Regions from separate parts of the Homo sapiens genome. Here all the other regions are linked to region 1. The links come from fine-mapping of genetic effects on gene expression. A gene starts in region 1. Each other region holds a variant in brackets. All regions are shown on one strand. Distances are from middle to middle. Region 1 holds the start of NECAP2 (NECAP endocytosis associated 2). Region 2 has its middle 17 kb from the start of LINC01772. Region 3 has its middle 10 kb from the start of RNU1-1.

Region 1 (8,178 bases):
TAAATAAATAAATAAATAAAAAGTTTTGAAATCAGGAAGTGTGAGTCCTCCAACTTTGTTCTTTTTCAAAATTCTTTGGGTATTGAGTGCCCCTTTTATAAGTGGTTTCCTCATCTGAAAAATGGGAGAATTTCTCTTGGAAATATCTATGATGGCAGGAAAATACAGCAGATAAAGATAAGTGGCATATCATATATATGTCTGGAGGCCGTCAGGGAAAGCTTGTTCACCTTACACCCCACCTTGGCCCTGCACCTACCAGAAATCAGCTGGATGAGTCACAGTGAGATTTTCCACCCCTGCTCACCGCCTTGCACATAGGATGGGCTCTGTCTGAGCCTATACTTTGCCTGTTGGCTTGAATTGGATTTGTTTGGTATACAGGGCAGTTAAACTGGGAATAGATGGCAGGTCCAATTATTCTCAGCAGCAGAGGTTTAGGAATGCATTTCAGGAATATCCAGCCATGTGGTTAGGGTTTGAGAATAAGGCAAGGGGCTGTGTGACCTCCAACTACTGGACAGTGTCATTTCCCCCAGCTTGTCACTGGTTCAGTGGCCCCCATTACACAATGAAGATAACAATCGTTGCCTTGCCAACCTCACAGTGATTATTGGGCCAGGGTACTCTCTCCCAGAAAGCCTTCCCTGACTCTCCCCAGACTGTGTGGGGTTTCTTCTCTTTGCTCCCACAGGCCCCTGTGAATTTGCTTCATTACAGTACCTTTCATTCTGCTTTGCCAATGACTGCTTTTCTCTCTGTCTCCTCCAGTCTGCGAGCTCCAGGATGGTAGGAGCTGGATTGGCCACATCCCAGTGACCCCAGTACTCAGCACCTGGCATAGGGTATGTGCTCGATGCCTGTCTTTGTTAGACTGAACAGAACTGAAAGTGCTCTGAATGGCTGGGTGCGGTGGCTCACACCTGTAATCCCAGCACTTTGGGAGGCCGAGGTGGGTGGATCACTTGAGGTCGAGTTATAGACCAGCCTGGCCAACATGGTGAAACCCCGTCTCTACTAAAAATACAAAAATTAGCCAGGCATGGTGGCGCATGCCTGTAATCCCAGCTACTTAGGAGGCTGAGGCACGAGAATCACTTGAACCTGGGAGGCAGAAGTTGCAGTGAGCTGAGATCATGCCACTGTCTTCCAGCCTGGGTGGTAGAGTGAGACTTAGTCTCAAAAAAAAAAAAATTGGAAAATAAGGCCAGGTATGGTGGCTCATGCCTATAATCCTAGCACTTTGGAAGGCTGAGGCAGGAGGATCTCTTGAAGACAGGAATTCAAGACCAGCCTGGGCAACATAGCAAGACCCCCGTCTCTACAAAAAGTAAGAAAAATAGCAGGGTAGGGTGGTGTGTGCCTGTAGGCCCAGCTACTCAAAAGGTTGAGGCAGGAGGATCCCTTGAGCCCGGGAATTTGAGGCTGCAGTGAGTGATGATCGCACCATTGCACTCCAGTGTGGGGTGACAGAGAGAGAAAGAAAGAGAGAGACCCTGTCTAAAAAAAAAAAAAAAAAGAAAAGAAAAAGAAAAGAAAAGAAAAGAAAAATAACCAATATTTGCAAAAATGTGAAGAAATTGAAACCCTTGTGAACGTAAATGGTGCTGCTGCTGTGGAAGACAGTTTGGAGGCTCCTCAAAAAGGTGAGCAAGGCCGGACATGGTGGTTCACACCTGTAGTCCCAGCTACTTGGGAGGCTGAGTTGGGAGGATCACTTGAGCCTGGGAGGTTGAGGCTGCAGTGAGCCATGATCATGCCAGTGCTTTCCAGCCTGGGCAACAGAGTGAGATGCTGTTTCAAACAAAACAAAACAAAACAAAACCACTAAACATAGCATTATTGTATAACTCAGCAGTTTCACTCCTATGTATACACTCAAGAAAATGGAAAACAGGACTAGAACAAGTGTTTGAACACCAATGCTCATAGTAGCCCGATTCCCAATACCAAAAGGTGATAACATCCCAATTGTTGACAGATGAATGGATAAACAAAATATGGTATATACATGCAATGGAATATTATCCCTCCATTAAAAGGAATGAAATTCTGATCCATGCTACATGAAAGAACCTTGAAAACTTGATGCTAAGTGAAATAAGAAACACAAAAGCCCAATATTGTATGATTCCACTTATAAGAGGTATCTAGAAAAGGCAAATTCATAGAGACAGAAAGTAAAACAGAGGTTACTAAGGGATGGAGCAGAAGGAAATGGGAAGTTATTGCTAATGGGTGTGGAGTTTCTGTTTGGGATGATGAAAAGTTCTGGAAAGCATGATATAGTTGCACAATATTGTGAATGTACTTAATTTCACAGCATTGTACACTTAAAATGGTAAATTTTATGTTATGTATATTTTACAATAAAAATGTAAGTGGTTAGATCAATCCTATAATAAAAAGCTTATAAAAAATGAGTAGAAATGGCCAGTCGTGGTGGCTCACGCCTGTAATCCCAGCACTTGGGAGGCCGAAGTGGGCGGATCACTTGAGGTCAGGAGTTCAAGATCAGCTTGGCCAACCAGATGAAACCCCCGTCTCTACCAAAAAAATACAAAAACTAGCCAGGCTTGGTGGTGGGTGCCTGTAATCCCAGCTACTCGGGAGGCTGAGGCAGGAGAATCGCTTGAACCCGGGAGGTGGAGGTTGCAGTGAGCCGAGATTGCACCACTGCACTCCAGCCTGGGCGGCAGAGTGAGACTTTGTCTGAAGAAAAAAAAAAAAAAAAGTAAAAAGGAGAAGGAGAGTGAGAGAGAAAAGGAAAGAAGGGGTGGGGAAAGTTTGGGGTATTCAGTGAATCAGAAGTTTGGGATCAGCTTCACCCCCACATAGGGGCTGGCACATTGCAGGCACTCAACTCAATGAGAGAATGGTAGGGAAGGAGGGATTTTGAGAATTTGGCTAGGGTAGACATTGTATCTCCCAGAATATTCTGGGAGAAATCGAAGTTAAGACTGGAATTCTTCTTCTTCTTTTTTTTTTTTTTTGAGACAGAGTCCCGCTCTGTCACCCAGGCTGAGGTGCAGTGGCACAATTTCAGCTCACTGCAACTTCCGCATTCCGGGTTCAAGCGATTCTAGTGCCTCAGTCTCCCAACTAGCTAGGACTACAGACACACGCCACCAAGCCCGGCTAATTTTTGTATTTTTAGTAGAGACGGGGTTTCACCATGTTGGCCAGGCTGGTCTCGAACTCCTGACCTCAGGTGATCCGCCCGCCTCAGCCTCCCAAAGTGCTGGGATTACAGGCGTGAGCTACCAAGCCCGGCCTGGAATTCTTCTTAAATTACTTGTGTTACTAAACTTTACTTCTTTGAATACAACTCGTTGTTGAGGTTTGGCCACACGGGGCCCTGAGCATATAAGTGGGTTCCCCTAGGGGAAGCATGGAGGGTGGTAGGGTAATGGCATCTATTTAGTCTGGTGGGTCAGGTGCCAGCTGAGCCTTACAGTCAGGAGAGGGAAGGATATTCAGGCAGAGGAGGCGCCGAGGCAAAGGCTGGAGGACAGAGATACTGCAGGGTGGGCTACAGCTTTGCCTCTCGGTCAACTGGGCCCCAGGCCTAAGAAACTGAAGCGATGGGGATGATCCACACCCAGACCACGGGTTACAGAGGGGTCTGTCCATGGCGGGCGCAGGGCGCTTTCTTTGCGTCGGAGGGTGTCTGGAGGGAAGGAGAAGCCTCTGGAGGGAGGGAGAAGCCTCCGGAGGTCGCCCGCCACGTGTCTTGAGCCGGGTTTCCAGCAGAGGGCGCACAAACGAGGCGGTGCTGAGGCCCGCGAGCTGCCGCTCTAGCCGAAACCTGGTCAGAGAGTCGCACCGCTTCCGTCCGTCGGACAGAGGAACGGTGGAAGTCGCCGGAAGTTCGGTGGGCTCCAGGCGTCGCGATGGAGGAGAGCGGGTACGAGTCGGTGCTCTGTGTCAAGCCTGACGTCCACGTCTACCGCATCCCTCCGCGGGCTACCAACCGTGGCTACAGGTGACTACCCACCGCCAGACCAGGCTAGCTCCAATTTAACCCTTTCTCCGCCACCCGGACACACCCACTGCGGGAACCGAGGACAGCCCTGGCCAGTTTTGGGGCGAGGGGGAGCTAATGCTGCTGCTTCTTCCAGTTCCAGGCCCGAGCAGGGAGGTGGATCCAGAGTTTCGCCCGTCTCAGTTCGACGCACGGGACTCCTGGCGGCGGGGAGGGCGTTAAAGCCGTATCTAGCGCTTAGGGACCCCGGTGGGCTGCCGGGTACCCTAAACTTGGTCGGGGGTGGTGATGTCACAGACGCTTCTCTTTCAGCGCTAACCGGTGGCCTTGAAGGGATCCTCGAAAAGCCTTAAGCGGGGAGGTGCCCTATCACAGACGGAAATCCCCGAGAGGAGGGGAGGGAGCCCAGAGCCGGCTGAAAGGACCGGTCCCGGGGAGCTTTAAGGTGACGGTCGAAGCCCAGGGACCCCTTCCTACCCAGATCCCTTCGCACGAATTTCACCCTTGATCACAGCCTGGAGCAGTTGGGAGGACCCCTTCTATATTTCTCTGGTCTCTACCTGAGACGAATAAACACACACGCTTGTAAACATACTGAGTATCTCTGCAAAGGAACACAGGAAACTGCCCTAGGGGAGGGGAACCGCCCTTGGAAGGAAACTTCCTTTCCCTTTTGTGCTGTTTGCGTTTTACTACTCTTTGTATGCGTTATCTATCAAAACGACGAAAAATATTAAAAGAAAAAAGATACACTTCATACAGACAACCTGGCCTATGGCTATTTTGTGCCACTGAGTGGTGGTGGGGAGTGCTCGTATTTGCGGGGGCCTGGGTGGCTCTTGAAGGCGATGGTTGTCCAAGTTTTTCGGAAATACAGGATTGGTCTGCACCCCAAGAATGATGGAACGTCCACATTTCCTCTTGTTACTTTCCAGTTGTGTTACCGTGGGCTCATAGCTGATCTTATGGTGAAAAGATGCGTTAGTGAACATTACATTCATGACATATTTTAAAATAGTATAAAAACAAAAACAACAATAACCAAAATACATTTGTTTTCTGTCATCAAACTGTGGTTGGACCATCAAACCATTGATGGTCGTCTAGCCCCATCTCCTGTTGGGTCTTTTTTTTTTTTTTTTGAGACAGAGTTTCCCTCTTGTTGTCCAGGCTAGAGTGCAATGGTGCGATCTCGGCTCACTGCAACCTCCGCCTCCCGGATTCAAGCGATTCTCCTGCCTCAGCCTCCCGAGTAGCTGGGATTACAGCCATACACCACCACACCCGACTAATTTTGTGTTTTTAGTAGAGATGAGATTTCTCCATGTTGGTCAGGCTGGTCTCGAACTCCCTACCTCAGGTGGTCCACTCGCCTCGGCCTCCCAAAGTGCTGGGATTACAGGCAGGATCCACCGCGCCCGGCCCCCTATTGGGTCTTTAGTAGGATGGATTTGGTTCCTCTTGGTGCCCCAGAGAGCGAGGTTATGAATTGTCAGGGCTGGCTGGTTTAGCTTAGAGGAAACTACCAGTGCCTGCACTTAAGTCTTGGAGCTCTCCTTAGCCTGAATCTCAGGCCTGGTAAGAGGAACAGGAACTGAGTCTGCTGATTTGTGAATTGAGAATCTGCATTTGTGCAGCCCTCAAGACAGCCGCGTCCAGGGTTCTTGAGAACTGGCATAGGGACTTCTAAGAAAAGCCTCCTGGAAACACCTGCGGTTCTTGCTATTTGGGGATTTAACTGACCTTTTCTTAGAACTAAAATGTGAAGTTAATGCTTTAAAAGAGTCAAAACAGCTGGCTGTGGTGGCTCACGCCTGTAATCCCAACACTTTGGGAAGCCTCGGTGGAAGGATCCCTTGAGCCCAAGACTTCAGGACCAGCCTGGGCAACATAGACCCTATCTCTATAATTTTTTTTAATTGGCCTGGTGTGTTGGTACACACCTGTAGTCCCAGCTACTCAGGAGGCTGAGGTGGGAGGATCTCTTGAGCTCAGGAGGTTGAGGCTTCAGTGAGCCGTAGTTGCGCCACTGCACTTCAGCCCGGGTGACAGAGTGAGACCCCGTCTCAAACAAATTAGAGCCAAAAGAGGCATTGCTGTAGGTTCATGGTTTCCTGGGTTTCTTCCTAAGGACCCATTCACTTTTCTCACATGTACTGTTGTTCTCCTTTTCTCTTCTGGTGATTGTTCCATGCTGTCTTTTTCTTTCAAGATAGTCTCACTGGTCTCAAATGGTCGCTCTGACTGCTGCAGTCAAGCAGTGTCAGAAACAGAATCAGGCCCCTGCAGCTGCTGCTTCTATAGAAAGGAAACTGGAAGGAAGTCCTACGTGGAGGAGGACACTGTGGTCTAGAGAGGGGGTCACCAAGTGACAACCCAGTGTGTTTTTGTATGGTTCACACCTAAGAATAGTTTTTACATTTTTTAAATGGTTTGGAAAATTTTTAAAGGAGAGTATTTCATACTGGGAACATTACATGAATTTCAGATTTCAGTGTCTACACTTTGATTGAAATACAGCTGTGCTCAGTAGAAAATAGTTAAGATACCTAAAGCATCACCACGTGCATGTTCTATACTGATTTTACCCTACAGCAGCCGAGCTGCCTTGTTGTGACAGGCTGTGTGGCCTGTAGAGCCAAAGATATTTACTGTCTGACTCTTTACAGAAAATGTTTGCCAACTCTTGGGCTAGAATAAGCAGCCCTTTCCATTCCCAGCATTGGGGTCACACAGCAGGAGCCTCTGGCAGAGATTCAGTGGTGTTTGTCCCCTTAGGGCTGCGGAGTGGCAGCTGGACCAGCCATCATGGAGTGGCCGGCTGAGGATCACTGCAAAGGGACAGATGGCCTACATCAAGCTGGAGGACAGGACGTCAGGTAACCGGAAGGGAGGCTGCATCAAGCTGAGGGGCCGCACCCCACTTTATGAAGGGAGAGGTGGCCTGGTCTGGCCAGGCTGCTCAGGGGTCATGGGAACCTGTCCTGAAAAATCAGAGACGTGTGTGTACCTTTAAGCTGTACCATTCCCCCACCTTAGTTGTAGAAAGTACCGTCTCCAGGTGTAAAAATGAGTATTTCATGTCAAACACTAGTTCCTTTTAGGAGTCCTCAGGAAAATGTGGGGGCCAAGGAGAGGAGACCGCAGCTTGGTCCTGGTAGGAAGTAGGAAGCCCTGGAAGTGGCCTTGAAGACAGGCGGGTGAGGATGCACAGCCCTCTGCCGCTGGGCTCTGCTTCCTACTGAGGAATTGTTTATCAATGCAGCGGTAACTCCCAGAGCTGACCACACCCATTAACCGAAGAAGCTGGAAACTGTCCTACTCAGCTCTTTCTGTAGTGAGAGGACGAGCTGAGCTGGGTTGTGTTGGGGTCAGCTGGCAGAGATCGTCTTGGGGGAAACTTCACAAGTCCTGGGCCACCTGTGCCTCTGGGTGAGCTGTGGAGGGCAGTGCACCTGGAATCCCCCAGCCGAGACCCCTAGTGGGGTCGGACACAGTGTCTGCTCAGTCAGGTGCCACAACATTCGGTCATTTATTTTTTCTAATATGTAGAGATTTTCCTTTGTAGAGCAGAAGAGAAAGTGCAAAAGTTTAGAGAGAGAACTGGCTGCCTCTTCTCAGAACTATGTTCTGCCTGAGCTGCTGGATGTGGGGTGAGCCACATGACCTCTGGGGCCTTGGCCTCCTCCTTGTTGAAATGGGGATCATATTAGTTCCTCCTTCATAAGATTGTTGGAGAATAGGAAGTGAGCAGATATTTCTGTAATGCTTTACGGACTGCGAGGCAACCCAAAGCATTGATGTGTTCTTCGGGAACTTGGGTACTGGCGGCAGAGGAGTTTGGAGAGGCAGCTGCCATGGCCAGACCAGAGACTTTAAGCTGGAGAATTGCTGGGACACCCCAGGTAGTGTCATAAGAGAATGGTAACACCTCGTTCTCTGAGGAATTTGGTAACTGCGACTTTATTTTAAAAAATCATTTGTTTTTAGATGGAGTCTTGCTCTGTCACCCAGGCTGGAGTGCAGTGGCACGATCTCAGCTCACCACAACCTCTGCCTCACAGGTTCAAGCAATTCTCTGCCTCAGCCTCTCGGGTAGCTGGGATTACAGGCGCCCCCCCACCACGCCCAGCTAATTTTTTTTGTACTTTTAGTAGAGACGGGGTTTCACCATATTGGCCAGGCTGTTCTTG
Region 2 (8,178 bases), 37 kb after region 1:
GCACAGTGCAGGGCACCTGGGACTCTCAAAACCCGCCGGCTGCTGCACCTTCTGGGACCGGGAGAGTGTCAGCTGGGTGAATCCCGCACACGGGCGCGGGGGCGCGGCGCGTAGTTGTGGAACCGGATACCCCGCGGGCTGCTGGCTCCAGCGCCTCCACCTGCCACTGGGCCAACCCCCTGGGCCTCCTCCAGCTTCTGCTCCCGCCAGCTCAGCTGCTGGGAGAGCTGGCCCCCACCCAGAGACTCAGCAGAACTCCCAGCATCCCCCAGCTTGTTGATCGTGCAGCACCCCAACTCTGGGCCTAACCCAGTCCTGGCAGAAAGCCTGGGTTCGAGCCCAGGGTCTGCCCTGATGTGCTATATGTGCTTGGGCAAGTCATGACCTTCTCTAGCTCTGCAATGCACGTGTGTACAAAAACCAGGGCCCGGCCGGACACGGTGGTGCACGCCTATAATCCCAGCACTTTGGCAGGTGGATCACTTGAGGTCAAGAGTTCAAGACCAGCCTGGCCAAGGTGGTGAAACCCTGTCTCTACTAAAAATACAAAAATTAGCCGGGCATGGTGGTGCACGCCTGTAGTCCCTGCTACTTGGGACGCTGAGGCAGGCGAACAGCTTAAACCCCGGAGGCGGAGGTTGCAGTGAGCCCAGATCATGCCACTGCACTCCAGCCTGGGCAACAGAGCAAGACTCTGTCTCAAACAAAACAAAACAAAACAAAAACCAACAACAAAAAAGAGGGCCCTCACTCAGCTTTGGGAGTAACAGAACCCTTGTATTACTCTAAGAAGAGAAGCTGAATATATAAAACAGACCCAAGTGCAGCTGCTCAGCAGGCCTCAAGGTGGAGACCTGCACCCTGCTTCTTGCACCCCCTACCCCATCCTCTAGAGGCCCCTCCCAGAAACCCAGGCACTCCAGGATAGACCTTGCATGAAGGTCCCTGGATCCCTGAAAATGAGACATTAAGGTCTCTTCCAGATGTGATGTTCCCAAAAGTCTAAGATTCCAATTCTAAAAAGTCTCGACCTATTATTAATCTGTATCATTATTATTATTATTATTATTATTATTATTATTATTTGAGACAGAGTCTCGTTCTGTTGCCCAGGCTGGAGTGCAGTGGCACGATCTCGGCTCACTGCAACCTCTGCCTCCTGGGTTCAAGCGATTCTCCTGCCTCAGCCTCCTGAGTAGCTGGGACTACAGGCGCGTGCCACCACACCCAGCTAATTTTTTGTAGAGATAGGGTTTCACCGTGTTAGCCAGGATGGTCTTGATCTCCCGACCTCAGGTGATCCACCCGCCTCGGCCTCCCAAAGTGCTGGGATTATAGGCGTGAGCCACTGCACCCAGCTAGCCCCATGCTATAGATGGGGCAACTGAGGTATGGGGAGGTTGGGCAGCTTGTCCAAGGTCCCCAGCTAGCAGAAGTGGGGCTGGATTTAACCAAGAAGCAGGCTCCAGTGCCTGTGACTTAACCCAGGACTGGATGCAGGGGGCTGGGAGCCCAGCCTGCCCCACATGCTCTCCACACCACCCCACACACAGCTTGGCCCACCTGCGCTAGCTGCTCCTGCAGCCGGCTGCACTCATGATGCAGCGTGGGGAGCTGCTGCTCCACTGCCTCCTGGGCCTGCTCCGCCGCTCATAGGGAGCCCTCCAGGCCCTGCCGCGCCACCTCCTGTTCCAACCGCAGCGCCTCCAGCCGCTCCTGCTCTTCCCGTGCCACTGTGGCCTCCTGCTTCGCCTGCCGCTGCCGGCCCTGCAGGGCGCACTTTTCTTCCTCCAGCTGTGGCCTGGGTAGGAGTGGGGCCTCGTGAGCAGGGCATCCCTCCCAGGACCAGGACGCCTCCTCCACCCACCCACCAGCCACAATAGCCCAGGGGAGGCTCCCAGGCAATGAGGGACAGGGCCCTTGGGTGTGTGGGACACTGGGGAGGGAGAGATGAGGAGGGCCCATGGAGCTTCTGTGCTTTGATGCCTAGAGAGGATAGACAGACAGAGACAGACAGAGAACCAGAGACAGAAAGGGAGGCAGGGGCCAAGACAGGTACAGGGCTGGGCCCGGGGTGCCTTACTGAGTGGGGAGGACGGGTGGGCAAGGCAGGTGGGCCCGCAGGTGCACAGCGTACCTGGGTGACAAGGCGGTTCAGATCCAACTTGTCCTGAGCAAGGCTCTCGTTGAGGGCGCTCAGCTTGGACAGGGAGTCCTGCAGGGAGGCCTCCTCTGCCCTCAGCCTGGAGGGCAGGGCCAGAGTTCAGAGGATCCCCTGAGTAAGGTCTAGGGATAGCACTGCTCAGAGCCCAGGCTGCAGCGGACAGCGCAGGCCCCCCCGCCAAGGACCCTCTGCGCTGTGGCCACAACTCTCAGACCCCAGGAGCTGAATCTCAGGATGACCCTGAGCTATAGGCACTGCCCCCAGGAGCATCCAGAACAGCAGGGATACGGCCATAAAGAGAGGTCAGTCCACTTATGGCTGGGACCAGAGGTCCAGAGGTCTGTGGTCTGTGACAAAGATCAGCCTGTATCCAGAAGGAAGGGGTCAGTCTGTGACCAGGCTCAGAGGTCTGCCTGACACTGGGACCAGTTTGTGCCAGAGTGAGAAGGCTTGGGGCTGGGGGTCAGATGTAGGTTTGTGGTTGTGCAGCCAACAGGGACCCACCTTGGTCAGCGCCTCGGCCACCTCGGCCTTCTCGGCCTGCAGCATGTCCCGTTGCAGTGTGGCGCGGCTCAGCGCCTCCCTCACCTCCACCAGCTCCTTGGCCAGGACTGAGCGCTTCCCTTCCAGCTGCTCCAGTTGTCTATGGCTGCAGGACAGAGGGCAGGTGGGTGGCCCATGTCACTTTCCTGCCCCGAATCTCCCACAGCCAGCGAGATGCTTGGCTGTGGACCAGGCCTGAGGCAGGAGTTTGGAGAGAAACAGCCTGAGCCACAGGGCAACCAAGCCCACTACTGCTTAGCTCCATGACCCTGGGCCTCCGTTTCCACATCTGCAAAATGAGGTAACACCTACCTTGTCACATAGTTTCTTTGTTTTCTTTGAGACAGAGTCTCGCTCTGTCGCTCAGGCTGGAGTACAGTGGTGAGATCTCAGCTCACTGCAACCTCCGCCTCCTGGGTTCAAGCCATTCTCCTGCCTCAGTCTCCCGAGTAGCTGGGATTACAGGCATGCACCACCACGCCTGGCTAATTTTTGTAGTTTTAGTACAGACAGGGTTTCCCCATGTTGACCAGGCTGGTCTCGAACTCCTGACCTCAGGCGATTCGCCTGCCTCGGCCTCCCAAAGTGCTGGGATTACAGGCGTGAGCCACCGTGCCCAGCCTGTTTTAAGGCTACAAACTTCACATGTGCTTAAAATAGTGCCTGACACATCTCCCCAAGGACCTTCAGAAACAAGAATAACATGCTCCACCACAGTCTACTAAACATCATCAGCGATCACGTCCCTGAGAGGTAAGCAGCGCAGTGGTGAAGAGGTTAACTCTAAAGGCAGAATGTCTGGGTTCAAATCCTGGCTCTTCTAACTAGCTGTGTGACCTGGGGCAAGTGACATGGCTTCTCTGTGCCTCAGTTTACCGTCCATAAAATGAAGATAACAGCTTCTATGTCACAGTTATCATAGGTTAAATGAGAGAACTGAATTGCTTAAAATGGTATCTGGCACTTAGTGAAAT[C/T]AGTAAGGATATTATTATGATCATAACTTAATTTAAAAAATACTATCGTTAATATTACTACTGTTATTTTAATTATTCTTGTTATTATCATCCAAGTTCTACCTTTTAACTAGTTCTCTGACCCCAGGTAAGTGAGTACACCTCCCTGAGCCCCAATTTCCTGCAATGGGTCTGGTTAGAAAACCCGACATCAGAGGGGTCCAGATGGTAGGAGGCCCAGGACCCAGTGGGTGCTCCCTAACCCCCGGGGCACTGTCAGGGGACCTGAGGCACATTTGAAGGGCCCTGGCAGGGTGGCGAGATGCTGTTCACCTGTGCTCAAGCTCCCGGCGCACCCGCACACCATCCTGCACTGCGTCCTCCTGCTCTTCCCCCAGCCAGTACCGCTGGCGCCGCAGCTCCTCCTGGGCAGCCTGCAGCTTCTTCCGCTCCTGCCGCAGCTCCTTGGCCTGCTGCTGGGCCACCTGCAGGCTGTGGGCCAGGTTGCTCTTCTCCCTTCAGGACAAGCAGAGGGGATGCTGGGGCTGCTCTCTGCAGGGAAGGTGGCTGGCTGCTCCTCTAGCCATGAGCTATAATCTCCCGTTTTCCAAGGAACCTGCCTCCAGGAAGCCTTCCCTGACCCTGCCCGTAGCTGACTCATTTCACTCACATCCTCCAGCAGAAGAACCTGGCTTTCCTTCTCCCCAACCCATCCACTTGGAGTGGATGGAGGTGCTGGCTTTATCTCCAAGCACCCTACCAGGTAGAAGAGGCCAGGTTAGGCTCCTGGGATACATGGGCAATTGTGCCACCAACCCTGCTAGGCCACGTGACCAGGAAATGTCCCCTATAACAACCCATGCCCCTCAATTCTGGGAAGCCTGATAGAGCTGAGTCTGCAGATCCCATGGCTTCCTGCTACACAGTCACATGGTGGCCACGGCAGGGGAGGGAGGAGAAGGGAACAACTGGGACCCCAAAGACTTGCCGTGAGCTGCCACGTTCCCCACTGGCGGTAGGTGCGAAAAACTTTCCCGATGTGATTTTCTTTTTTTTTTTTTGAGACGGAGTCTTGCTCTGTCACCCAGGCGTGATCTCGGCTTACTGCATGCTCTGCCTCCCAGGTTCATGCCATTCTCCTGCCTCAGCCTCCTGAGTAGCTGGGACTATAGGCGCCTGCCACCACACCCGGCTAATTTTTTGTATTATTAGTAGAGACGGGTTTTCACCATGTTAGCCGGATGGTCTTGATCTCCTGACCTCGTGATCTGCCCGCCTCGGCCTCCCAAAGTGCTGGGATTACAGGTGTGAGCCACCACGTCCAGCAATTTTTTTTTTTTTTTTTTTTTTTAGACAGAGTCTCACTTTGTCACCCAGGCTGGAGTGCAGTGACACAATCTCAGCTTGCTGCAACCTCCACTTCCAGAGTTCAAGCAATTCTCCTGCCTCAGCCTCCTGAGTAGCTGGGATTACAGGCACCTATCACCACGCCCAGCTAATTTTTGCATTTTTAGTTAGAAGTGGGGTTTCACCATATTGGCCAGGCTGGTCTCAAACTCCTGACCTCAAGTGATCTGCCCGCCTCGGTATCCCAAAATACTAATTTTGGGCTAAAATTGGGCTAAAAGGGCACACCCAGCCCTAATTTTTTTATTTTTATTTTTTTATTTTGTACTTTTATTTATTTATTTTTTTGACACTCTTGTTGCCCAGGCTGGAGTGCAATAGTGTGATCTCGGTTCACCGCAAACTCTGCCTCCCATGTTCAAGCGATTCTCCTGCCTCAGCCTCCCAAGTAGCTGGGATTACAAGCATGCACCACCACGGACAGCCAATTTTGTATTTTTAGTAGAGACAGGGTTTCTCCATGTTGGTCAGGCTGGTCTCAAACTCCTGAACTCAGGTGGTCCTCCCGCCTCGGCCTCCCAAAGTGCTGGGATTACAGGCGTGAGCCACTATGCCGGGCCAATTTTTAAAATTTTTAGTACAGATGGGGTTTTGCCATGTTGGCCAGGCTGGGCTCAAACTCTTGACCTCAAGTGATCCACCCGCCTTAGTCTCCCAAAGTGCTGGGATTACAGGCGTGAGCCACTGTGCCCAGTTGACAACGTGCTGTTCAGTAAAACACACTCAGCCTGAATTTTCACTTTTTAAAATTTTTAATTAAATTTTAATAGAGCCAGACACAGTGGCTTATGCCTGTAATCCCAGCAATTTGGGAGGCTGAGGTGGGAGGAGTGTTTGAAGCTAGGAGTTCAAGACCAGCGTGGGCAACATAGTGAGACCCCCATCTCCACATTTCACAGAATGCAAAATGGGATGTTTGCTGTGAACACAACTACTTAAAAAGACCTTCTCCTTTCCAGGCATGGAAAGCCTGGGTTTACTCTCCCATGGACCTGAATTCCAATTCCCACCCTGCCACCCCAGCCACACATGCTGTATGAGTCTGAGCGAGCCTCTCAAGCTTACAACAAAAGAGTTCTGAATTGCATAAGTTTGACAGGAAGACTAAATCACAGAGTATGTATAAAACACTCAGCCAAGAGCCTGGCACACAGTAGGTGTGAAGGAAACGTTTGCTATCTCACTGCCAGGCAACACAGTGGGAAGGAAAACCAGTGCCCTACATGAGTTAGGATGGGCAGATGAGGCTGTGAGAAGGCGAGGTCTTTTTATTTCTATTATTTTTCAAACTTTTCATTAGATGGTTACATTTATGAAGAGAAAAACCAAACAACAAAATATCAAAAACAACCTGGCAGCTAAGTGGATAATTTCTTGTCTTAAAAATCTTCAAGGTGCAAAGAACGGTGGCTCATGCCTGTAATGTAGCACTTTGGGAGGCCGAGGTGGGCGAATCACCTGAGGTCAGGAGTTCGACACCAGCCTAGCCAACATGGTGGAACCCCATCTCTACTAAAAATATAAAAATTAGCCAGGCATGCTGGCAGGCATCTGTAATCCCAGCTACCAGGGAGGCTGAGGCAATTGCTTGAACCTGGGAGGCGGAGGTTGCAGTAAGCCAAGATCGTGTCATGGGCAACAAGACTGCGGAAAAAAAAAAAAAGTGGATAATTTCTTGTCTTAAAAATCTTCAAGGTGCCGGGTGTGATGGCTCACACCTATAATCCCAGTACTTTGGGAAGCCAAGATGGGTGATCATTTGAGCTCAGGAGTTAGAGATCAGCCTGGGTAACATGGCAAAACCCCATCTCTACAAAAAACAGAAAAATTAGGCAGGCGTGGTGGTGTGTGCCTGTAGTCCCAGCTACTCAGGAGGCTGAGGTGGGAGGATCACTTAAGCCTAGGAGGTGGAGGTTGCAGTGAACTGAGATCGCACCACTGTACTCCAGCCTGGGTGACAGAACGAGACCCTGTCTCAAATTAAAAGAAAAAAACAATCTTCAAGGCTAGGCATGGTGGCTTATGCCTGTAATCTCAGCATTTTGGGAGGCCGAGGCAGGGGAATCGCTTGAGGCCAGGAGTTTGAGACCATCCTGAGCAACACAGCAAGACCCCATCTCTGAAAACAAACAAACAAACAAAAAACTCCAAGAAATACGGTCCAGAATAGCGCTGTCAATAGAACTCTCTGAGATGACAGAAACATTCTATGGCCATGTGTGGTTGATGAGTGCTTGAAATGTGCCTAGGGCAACTAAAGAACTGAATTTTCTTTTTCTTTTTTCTTTTTCTTTTTTTTTTTTTTGAGATGGAGTCTCGATCTGTCACCCAGGCAGGAGTACAATGGCGCAATCTTGGCTCACTGCAAGCTTCGCCTCCCAGGTTCACACCATTGTCCCGCCTCAGCCTCCCGAGTAGCTGGAACTACAGGCACCCGCCACCACACCCAGCTAATTTTGTTTTTGTATTTTTAGTAGAGATGGGGTTTCACCGTGTTAGCCAGGATGGTCTCGATCTCCTGACCTCGTGATCCGCCCACCTCGGCCTCCCCAAGTGCTGGGATTACAGGTGTGAGCCACCGCATCTTTTTTGTTTGTTTGTTTTTGAGATGGAGTCTCACTACGTCTCCCAGCCTGGAGTGCAGTGGTGTTATCCTTGCTCATTGCAATCTCTGCCTCCGGGGTTCAAGTGATTCTCCCACCTCAGCCTCCCGAGTAGCTGGCATTACAGGAGCATGCCACCATGCCTGGTTAATTTTTGTATTTTTAGTAGAAACCGGGTTTCACCATGTTGGCCAGCCAGCTGGGTTGTGAGCCACCACACCCAGCCTGAATTTTCACTTTTTCAAATTTTTAATTAAATTTTAATAGCGCCAGGTACAGTGGCTTGTGCCTGTAATCCCAGCAATTTGGGAGGCTGAGGTGGGAAGAGTGTTTGAAGCTAGGAGTTCAAGACCAGCATGGGCAACATAGTGAGACCCCCATCTCTACAAAAAATTTAGAAATGTTGGGGGCTTGTCTAGTATCCTTGGGGCTGAGATCAGAGTTGCCCAGGAACCCAGGGAGGTGAGGGCTCAGAGGGTGATGAGGGCACAGAGGAAGGGAGTGGAAA
Region 3 (8,178 bases), 63 kb after region 1:
GCCTCTCTGAGTAGCTGGGACTACAGGTGCCCGCCACCACGCCGGGCTAATTTTTTGTATTTTTAGTAGAGACAGGGTTTCACCGTGGTCTCGATCTCCTGACCTCATGATCTGCCCGCCTCGGCCTCCCAAAGTGCTGGGATTACAAGCGTGAGCCACTGTGCCCGGCCAAATTTTTGTATTTTTAGTAGAGACGGGGTTTCACCATATTGGCCAAGCTTGTCTCGAACTCCTGACCTCGCGATCCACTCGTCTTGGCTTCCCAAAGTACTGGGATTACAGGCGTGAGCCACCGCACCCGGCCGAGATCATTCATTTTCAAAGGGAGAGGCAGCTCTGAATCTCTAGGGCTAAGAGAGGGATGTGTTTGGTTTGAAAAAGCATGTTTAATTTAATGATTTTGTGTTTTTTCCAAACACAGTACCCAGAGAGAACGGCCAGCAGGCCCGCGGCTGATGGTTGCTTCTGTGTTTCCTGCGTGGTAGGAGGGAAGCAGTGGAAGTTCCATCTTTGTCAAAGAGGAACCTGTCTGTGACATCTGAAACACTGCACTAAAGGCTGCCAGTGTGCCCTTCGGGCTCTGAAACCCGGCCCAGTGCAAGCAAGACTGTGGCCTGGACCAGGGCTGAGAGCTGTTTGTCAGGAGAGATTCGGGCCATTCCCTGGGGTTTGGGTTGGAAGGGTGATGTTACCAAGATTGGAAGGAAGGTCACAGTTTCCCTGAGGTGTCCCTGGCCCAACTGCAGGAGGGCTGACTGACATCTGCCAGTATGCACAGCCAGTCCCTGGATGCCCAGCATGGCCCAGGTCTGTGTGACCCTGTCTGGAGTCCCCAGACTTGCTATGTCCCTACCCAGGCCCTGGTGGGCTCATGACCTCCCCAGTCCAGTTCTGATGCTGCCTGTCCCTGTGAAGCCCACTCCAGTGTTCATATCACCAGGGCTGGGCTCAGGCCTGTGTCCTTGCCCCTCTCTCCAGGGCATCTTGGGTCTCCCTTGGTGACAGTACCTGCACCCTGCGGGCAGCCTGCGCTGGCTGTGAACCACACTGCCGCCTACTTCCTCTTCTATGTTCCCGCTCTGTCCACAGTCCCCTCTGAACACTCCCGTGAAGCAGGTTCTAGGATCATCTCCATTTTATAGAAGGGGAGATTGAGGATCAGAGACATGCAGTCATTTGCCCAAGGACACACGCAGGAAGTTCAATGGCTTCCAATCCCATGCTCTTTCCTCTACACCGTGCTGACTCACTTGAGGTTTTAACAGGGGGCGGCAAACACAGCTCCTCTCCCCTTGACCCTCTCACTCCCAAAGCCCATAGGACCCTGCCGCAGGGTGGCACATACTTAACCTCCTTGGGGGGGCCTCCAGCTCCCCTCTCTGTGTAGAGCCTACGTTCCCTGCTGTGCTGAGTCCTTGGCTCTGCTCAGCTCAGCCTGACCGGGCTGCGGTCATTTGAATCCCCAGTGCTGCCGCCCACCGGTCACCCTGTCCTGTCACCAGGTGGTGACTGGCCCAGTGACCCCCAAGACAACCCGCCAGAAAAGAATCATGCCAGGTGCTCACCTGCTCACTGCAGAGGGCTCTAAATCTGCAACTCAGGTAACAGGGAAACAACTGATTGGAGTTACCACCCTCAGGTTGCTAAGGCCAAGTGCCTGCCAAATCCAGCGGCTCGGCTGGGGTGGACTCTGCCCACCATCAGCAAAACGACATTCACCAGGAGGCTTAGAGGTAATTGCTCTGGTTAACTGGATTTGCTGGGCATCTGAAGGCTAACTTGCAGAGTCTTTCTATCATGCCAGACTTTAATAGCAAAAAGTTAGAAAGACCTAAACATTCAGCAGTAGGGGACTTGTATAATAAACCATGGGTTATTCATATAATGGCACACTATGATGTCATTCCAAATGTTATAGAAGAATGTTCAATGACTGGACAGATGGTTACGATATATTAAGTGAAAGTTTCAGAAAAGTAATACAGAATAAGCCCATATTGTAAAAAAAAAAAAAAAAGATTTCCTTTTTTTTTTTGAGACGGAGTTTCGCTCTTGTCACCCAGGCTGAAGTACACTGGCGCAATCTCGGCTCACTGCAACCTCTGCCTCCTGGGTTCAAGCAATTCTCCTGCCTCAGCCTCCCAAGTAACTGGGATTACAGGCGCCTGCCACCACACCCAGCTAATTTTTGTATTTTTAGTAGAGGTGGGGTTTCAGTGTGTTGGCCAGACTAGTCTTGAATTCCTAACTTCAAGTGATCCACCCACCTCGGCCTCCCGAAGTGCTGGGATTACAGACATCATCCACCAGCCCAACAATTCACTCCTGACCCAATGATTAAAAAAAAAAAACTTGTAGGCCGGTTGTGGTGGCTCACAATGTACTACATTTGTAGACATTTTGGTGCCTTAATGTGAGCAAGGGTTGCACAAGTTTTGATAGGCATGTATTCCAGAGATGTATAGAAATTCTAGTTACTGGCTGGGCACGGTGGCTCATGCCTGTAATCCCAGCACTTTGGGAGGCCAAGGCGGTGGATCACGAGGTCAGGAGTTCAGGACCAGCCGGGCCAAGATGGTGAAACCTTGTCTCTACTAAAAATACGAAAATTAGCTGGGTATGGTGGCGGGCACCTGTAATTCCAGCTACTTGGGAGGCTGAGGCAGAGAATTGCTTGAACCCAGGAGATGGAGGTAGCAGTGAGCCGAGATTGTGCCACTGCACGCCAGCCTGGGAAACAGAGCAAGACTCTGTCTCAAAAAAAAAAAAAAAAAAAGCAGACATTCTAGTTACTTATAAATTTTTGGGAAAGAAGCCTGGAACTAGATTCTTGCTTTAGATAGTAAGGAACTCTAATTGCCTCTAAATTCCTCAGATAAGGAGTTTTGCCTCTGGATGGTCTGCTTTATGGCCACCAGGTGATTTTTGCTAGCCTTGGTGACCTTTTACGTGTAGGATTTTTTTTTTTTTGGATACGGAGTCTCGCTCTGTTGCCCAGGCTGGAGTGCAGTGGCGCAACCTCGGCTCACTGCAATCTCCCCTACTAGGGTTCTAGCGATTCTCCTACCTCAGCCTCCCAAGTACCTGGGATTACAGGCACCCGCCACCATGCCTGGCTCATTTTTTTGTATTTTAATAGAGATGGGGTTTCGCCATATTGGCCAGGCTGGTCTTGAACTTCTGACCTCAGGTGATCAACCCGAGGTTGGCCTCCCCAAGTGCTAGGATTACAGGCATGAGCCACCCTGCCCAGCCCTAACGGTGGGCTTTTTTTTTTTGAGGCAGGGTTTCACTGTCTCCCAGGCTGGAGTGCATGGAGAGCAGTTGTTCCAGCATAGTGATTACATGGTTTTTATATCATTCCATTTTCTTTCCTTTGTTGGCTTATTAGGTATAACTCTTTCTTTCTTCTGGTCCACCACTCCCTGACTTCTTTCCCTCCTTTTGCTTTTTCAGTGAAGGCTTCAGGGTTTCCAGAATACATCTTTATCAGTGCCATCTAGTGACATTATACCTCCCCTTCTGGCCATTATGCTAGTGTTGTCATGTAATTTGATTTTAGACATGTTATAAAACCCAGAATCCATTATTATTGCCTTTGTTTAATCGGTCAAATTATTTTAAAAGATTTAAATAATAAGAACATGTATATTTAACTGTGTACATACCGATTTCCAGTAGTCTCCATTTCTTTGTGTAGATGCAGATTTCTGTCTGGTATCCTTGTAGTGTGGGTTGCTGAATTCTTTCATTTTTTTGTATGTCTTTAAATGTCCTTATTTCAGTCACATTCTTGAAAGATTTTTCACTTTGACATGGAATTCTAGGAAAACTTTATTTCTTTCAGTACTTTAGGATGTTGCCACTTTGTTTTTGTAAAACTGGCATAAAGTTGGCTTCCTGTACTTATATAATTTTTGGAATGTGTATTTAAGTTAAAAACATTAAAATGGGCTGGACCAGGTGGTGCATGCCTGTAGTCCCAGCACTTTGGGAGGAGGAGACAGGAGGATCGCTTGAGGACCAGAGTTGGAGACCAGTATGGGCAAGATTGCAAGACCCTGTCTCTCTGTCTCTCATACACACACACACACACACACATCATGAATGTCTTAGATTCATTGTAAGTTCCACCGACAGTGCGCTTAAAGTAAAATGTGCCCAACCTGAGGGTCAAACCTACCTGCTGACATGTAGTTTGTGCTTGTGAGACATTCTCAACAGCATTTCCTTTCCCTAGCATAGTGGTTTTCGTGTTTTCCTCACACCTGAATGTCTTAAGTGCAAAACCTGTCAGTCAGAAATCATTTCCTTTGCCAAAAGATTCTAAAATACTTTTTTTTTTTTTTTTTAGGCCAGGTGTGGTGGCTCACGCCTGTAATTCCAGCACTTTGGGAGGCCAAGGTGGACGGATCATGAGGTCAGGAGATCGAGACCATCCTGGCTAACATGGTGAAACCCTGACTCTACTAAAAATACAAAAACAAAATTAGCTGGGTGTGGTGGTGGGCGCCTGTAGTCCCAGCTACTCCGGAGGCTGAGGTGGGAGAATGGCGTGAACCCAGGAGGCGGAGCCTGCAGTGAGCTGAGATGGTGCCACTGCACTGCAGCCTGGGCAACAGAGCGAGACCCCGTCTCTAAATAAATAAATAAATAAATAAATAAATAAAATAAAGTGAAATAAATTTTTTTTGACATCAGCTCACTGCAACTTCCACTTCCCATGTTCACAGGATTCTCCCGCCTCAGCCTCATGAGTAGCTGAGACTACAGGCCTGCACCAACACACCCAGCTAATTTTTGTATTTTTAGTAGAGACAGAGTTTCACCATGTTGGCCAGGCTGGTCTC[A/G]AACTCCTGACCTCAAGTAATCTGCCCACCTCTGCCTCCCAAGGTGTTGGGATTACAGGCGTGAGCCACTGCGCCTGGCCAAAAATACTCTTACTTCAAGGAAAAGTGCTTTAAAAATAAACTTCTCAGTTGCATCCCTGGAATCCATAGAAAGCCCAGGAGAGACAATCAAGTACTACAGGATCAAGCATTAAACAGGGGAAGACAAAGCCTGGCTTCCTAACTAGGAGTCAGGACAAAGTTATCTGCTTTGGTTTCCTATGGAGACCAGAACTCGGTTCACCTGCAAAGGGAGGATGCAGCCCAGAGGAGGCAGACTTTCTCTTCATGGTGCCTTCAGATAGGAAATCTCCTAGGATTTCTTTCTTTCACTTTGATCTACTCCCAATGCTCCCTTTCTGTTTCTTCAAGACCTTTCTTGGATCCCTAATGTGCAGGACCTAAGGGGCTGGTGCCCTTCCCTACCCTTCCTGCCTGGGTGTCTTCAGCACCGGAGCTCACACAGAATGTTACTGCCTGCCAGAGACAGTGAGAGGACCAAGGAGGGCGATGGGTGCAGTGGGAACTACTGAGTCACCATGTACCTGTGCCTCATGGGCTCCTAGCAAATTGAATAAACACTCCCTGAAGCATGGCACCAGTTCCAAGTACAATTACTACTTGGCTCTATGAGCTGAGTGCACGTTCCCCCCAGCACGGAAATCCTAGAAACTCCCATGGATGCTATAGTGAAAAGCAGGGGCTGGCCAGGTATGATGGATCACACCTGTAATCCCAGTGCTTTAGAAGGCTGAGGTAGGGCGGATCATTTGAGTCCAGGAGTTGGAGACCAACCTGGGCAACATGGAGAAACTTCAACTCTTAAAAAACAAAACAACCACCACAACAACAAAAACAACAGAAATTAGCTGGCTGTGGTGACTCGTGCCTCTGCTACTCCAGAGGCTGTGGTAGGAGGATCACTTGAACCAAGATGCCACCAGATACAGTGAGACTCTGTCTCAGGGAAAAAGTCAAACAAACAAAAAAAGAGGCTGTGTAAGAGGTGATTCTGGGGACAGCGGAAAAACACTAAGGTTTTCAAGTGGTGTTAAAAGCCAGTAGGCCTTGGGGACCATTGAGCAATCTACAAAGCAGGGAAGCCTAGATCCCTGAGCTCTGCCTGCCAAGTACCACCACAGCTAACATGGGAGACCTCCCCCACAGAGACTGAAATTTGCCTCCCAAGGAAACAAGTGACTACAGACATCTGTCCCAGGACAGTAAACAAGAAAACAAGGTGTCACAAAAACAAAAACAGCTGACCACAGCATACAATCACTGAGACTGAGCCTGCGACTATAGGCAAAAAAAAAAAAAAAAAAAAAAAATGCCGTCTATTATTCATACCATGAAAGACCAGGGGAAAGTGTGAACGCAGTCCCCTACTACTGTTGTGGGAATCAGGAGAACAGAGAGACCGATAGGTGGAACAGGAGGATTTATTGACTGCACTCAGGCACAGTGGATTAAAATCCAAAAGCTGAGCCATGAACAAAGACAGGGCTTGACTTTATAGACACTTCTGAAAGGGGGTTGGCTAGTTTGAATGGCGCGGCGGGAATTTGATGGCACGAAACTCGTGGGGCAGGCAAGAGGGCTTACAGAAGCAGAAGAAAGGCAGCTAATCAAACTGTCACAGGTCTTGCAATGCAAGTATGGCTGGTGACCTTGCAGCTGCACTGAAGGGAAATCGGGAACTTAACAAAACTTGAATAATTAGAAATGGAAAGGGGGAAAGAGAAGGTAGTAAAGGCATTTGTTGTTTTTTCCTCTTATCTTTGCTAGGGGCTGTGTTGAGAGAGTCTCCGGAACGCATTCCTCGGGGCTCTGACTTTTCAGATCGTGTTACCGAGGATCTGCTAGGGCTCTATCTATGGCAGGTCTTGGAGTCAGCCAAGTACAGGGAAACCTGTCTTTTCCTTTTAACTTCTGCCTGATTACTACAAGTTGTACAGCACACCATGCCTGGTTTTCATCAGCAATGTTTCCTGAGGTTACAGAAAGATTTCTAATCCTGGGAGGAAACACTCCCTTGAAGCAAAAGTGTTCTCCCCCAAAAAATGCAAGGAGCTATCTTCTTGATAGCCAGGCAGATAATTCTCAGGTTTTGCCCCACAGAATCTCGATCTAAAATAGAGCAGTGGTCATGCCTAGTGAAAAGTTTGAGGGAACTCACCCAACGTTGGGTTTCTTCAGAGCCATATATATAGATATAACCAAATATCCTAAAAGACACTGCCCTTCATCATTCCATGCTGTTAGACATTTATAGGACCATGGATGGTGATCTCCTCCAGACAAAAATAAATGCTGGTGCAGAACAGGTAAGTGTATTATAATTTGAGTACATCAGCTTTTGGGCATTTTAAACCATGGGTCAGACATGTTAAAGAAAGAGCCAGGTTGATAGTAAAAGGGAGTGTTTTTCTATTAATTTTCCAATAGCAAAGTGATGTTTGCCACTGTCATTTCAGAGTGAGGGGACAATTTGTTGTTGTTTGGTTTTGTGGGTTTTTGTTTGTTTGTTTGTTTGTTTGTTTTTGAGACAAGGTCTCACTGTCACCCAGGCTGGAGTGCAGTGGCATGATCAGGGTTTACTTCTGCCTTGACCTCATGAATTCAAGCAAACCTCCTTACTAATCCTCCCAAGTAGCTGGGACTACAGGCACGTGGCCCCACACCCTGGGGTGTGAACTGGGATTTGATGTTTTCAGTTGGCTCTCTAATGGAATAGGTTCCCTTACTCTTGTAGAATCAGATTGTCTTCATGATTATCATTCTTGTGTGCATTATATTTCTACTACCCTGCTGTTTTTTTTTCTATTTTTCTTTTTATTTTTTTCTTTGTGAGACAGAGTCTCGCTCTGTCTCCCAGGCTGTATTGCAGTGGCAGGATCTCAGCTCACTGCAACCTCCACCTCCTGGGTTCAAGCAATTCTTTTGCTTCAGCCTCCTGAGTAGCCACCTGGCTAATTTTTGTATTTTTAGTGGAGACAGGGTTTCACCATGTTGGCAGGCTGGTCTCGAACTCCTGACCTCAAGTGATTCACCCGCCTCAGCCTCCCAAAGTGCTGGGATTACAGGCATGAACTACCACACCTGGCTCTCAAACCATTTTAGTTAAGCAAAGACAGATTTGTCTGGCTTTTTAGTACAATGCTGAATTATCCTCCAATCTATATTTTTAGGAAGGACCTGGGGAATGGCAACTTGGAGATATTTGGTGAAAATGTGAACCTTTCATGTTCTGCTTCAGTCTCTTTTTGAAAATCCTTCCAATTTACCT

Evidence for each region. PIP is the estimated chance that this variant, and not a neighbour inherited with it, causes the effect.
Region 2: its variant is fine-mapped to the expression of NECAP2 in whole blood (TOPMed, PIP above 0.99). The same link has a PIP of 0.9 or more in T cells and blood mononuclear cells.
Region 3: its variant is fine-mapped to the expression of NECAP2 in whole blood (TOPMed, PIP above 0.99).

Annotation. Positions count from the first base shown.
Region 1 is chr1:16,436,869-16,445,046 of GRCh38, forward strand. It overlaps NECAP2 (NECAP endocytosis associated 2), which reads left to right and starts at 3,856. Exons shown (of 8, transcript NM_018090.5): 1 at 3,856-3,985; 2 at 6,764-6,864. The coding sequence starts at 3,894. SPATA21 (spermatogenesis associated 21) reads right to left here and starts at 556. Exons shown (of 13, transcript NM_198546.1): 1 at 260-556. RefSeq lists a silencer at 1,286-1,456.
Region 2 is chr1:16,474,262-16,482,439 of GRCh38, forward strand. It overlaps the pseudogene CROCCP3. Among named protein-coding and RNA genes, the nearest start is that of LINC01772, 17 kb to the left of the region's middle. The variant C/T (reference allele first, on the strand shown) is at 3,682.
Region 3 is chr1:16,500,196-16,508,373 of GRCh38, forward strand. No RefSeq gene overlaps it. Among named protein-coding and RNA genes, the nearest start is that of RNU1-1, 10 kb to the right of the region's middle. The variant A/G (reference allele first, on the strand shown) is at 4,851.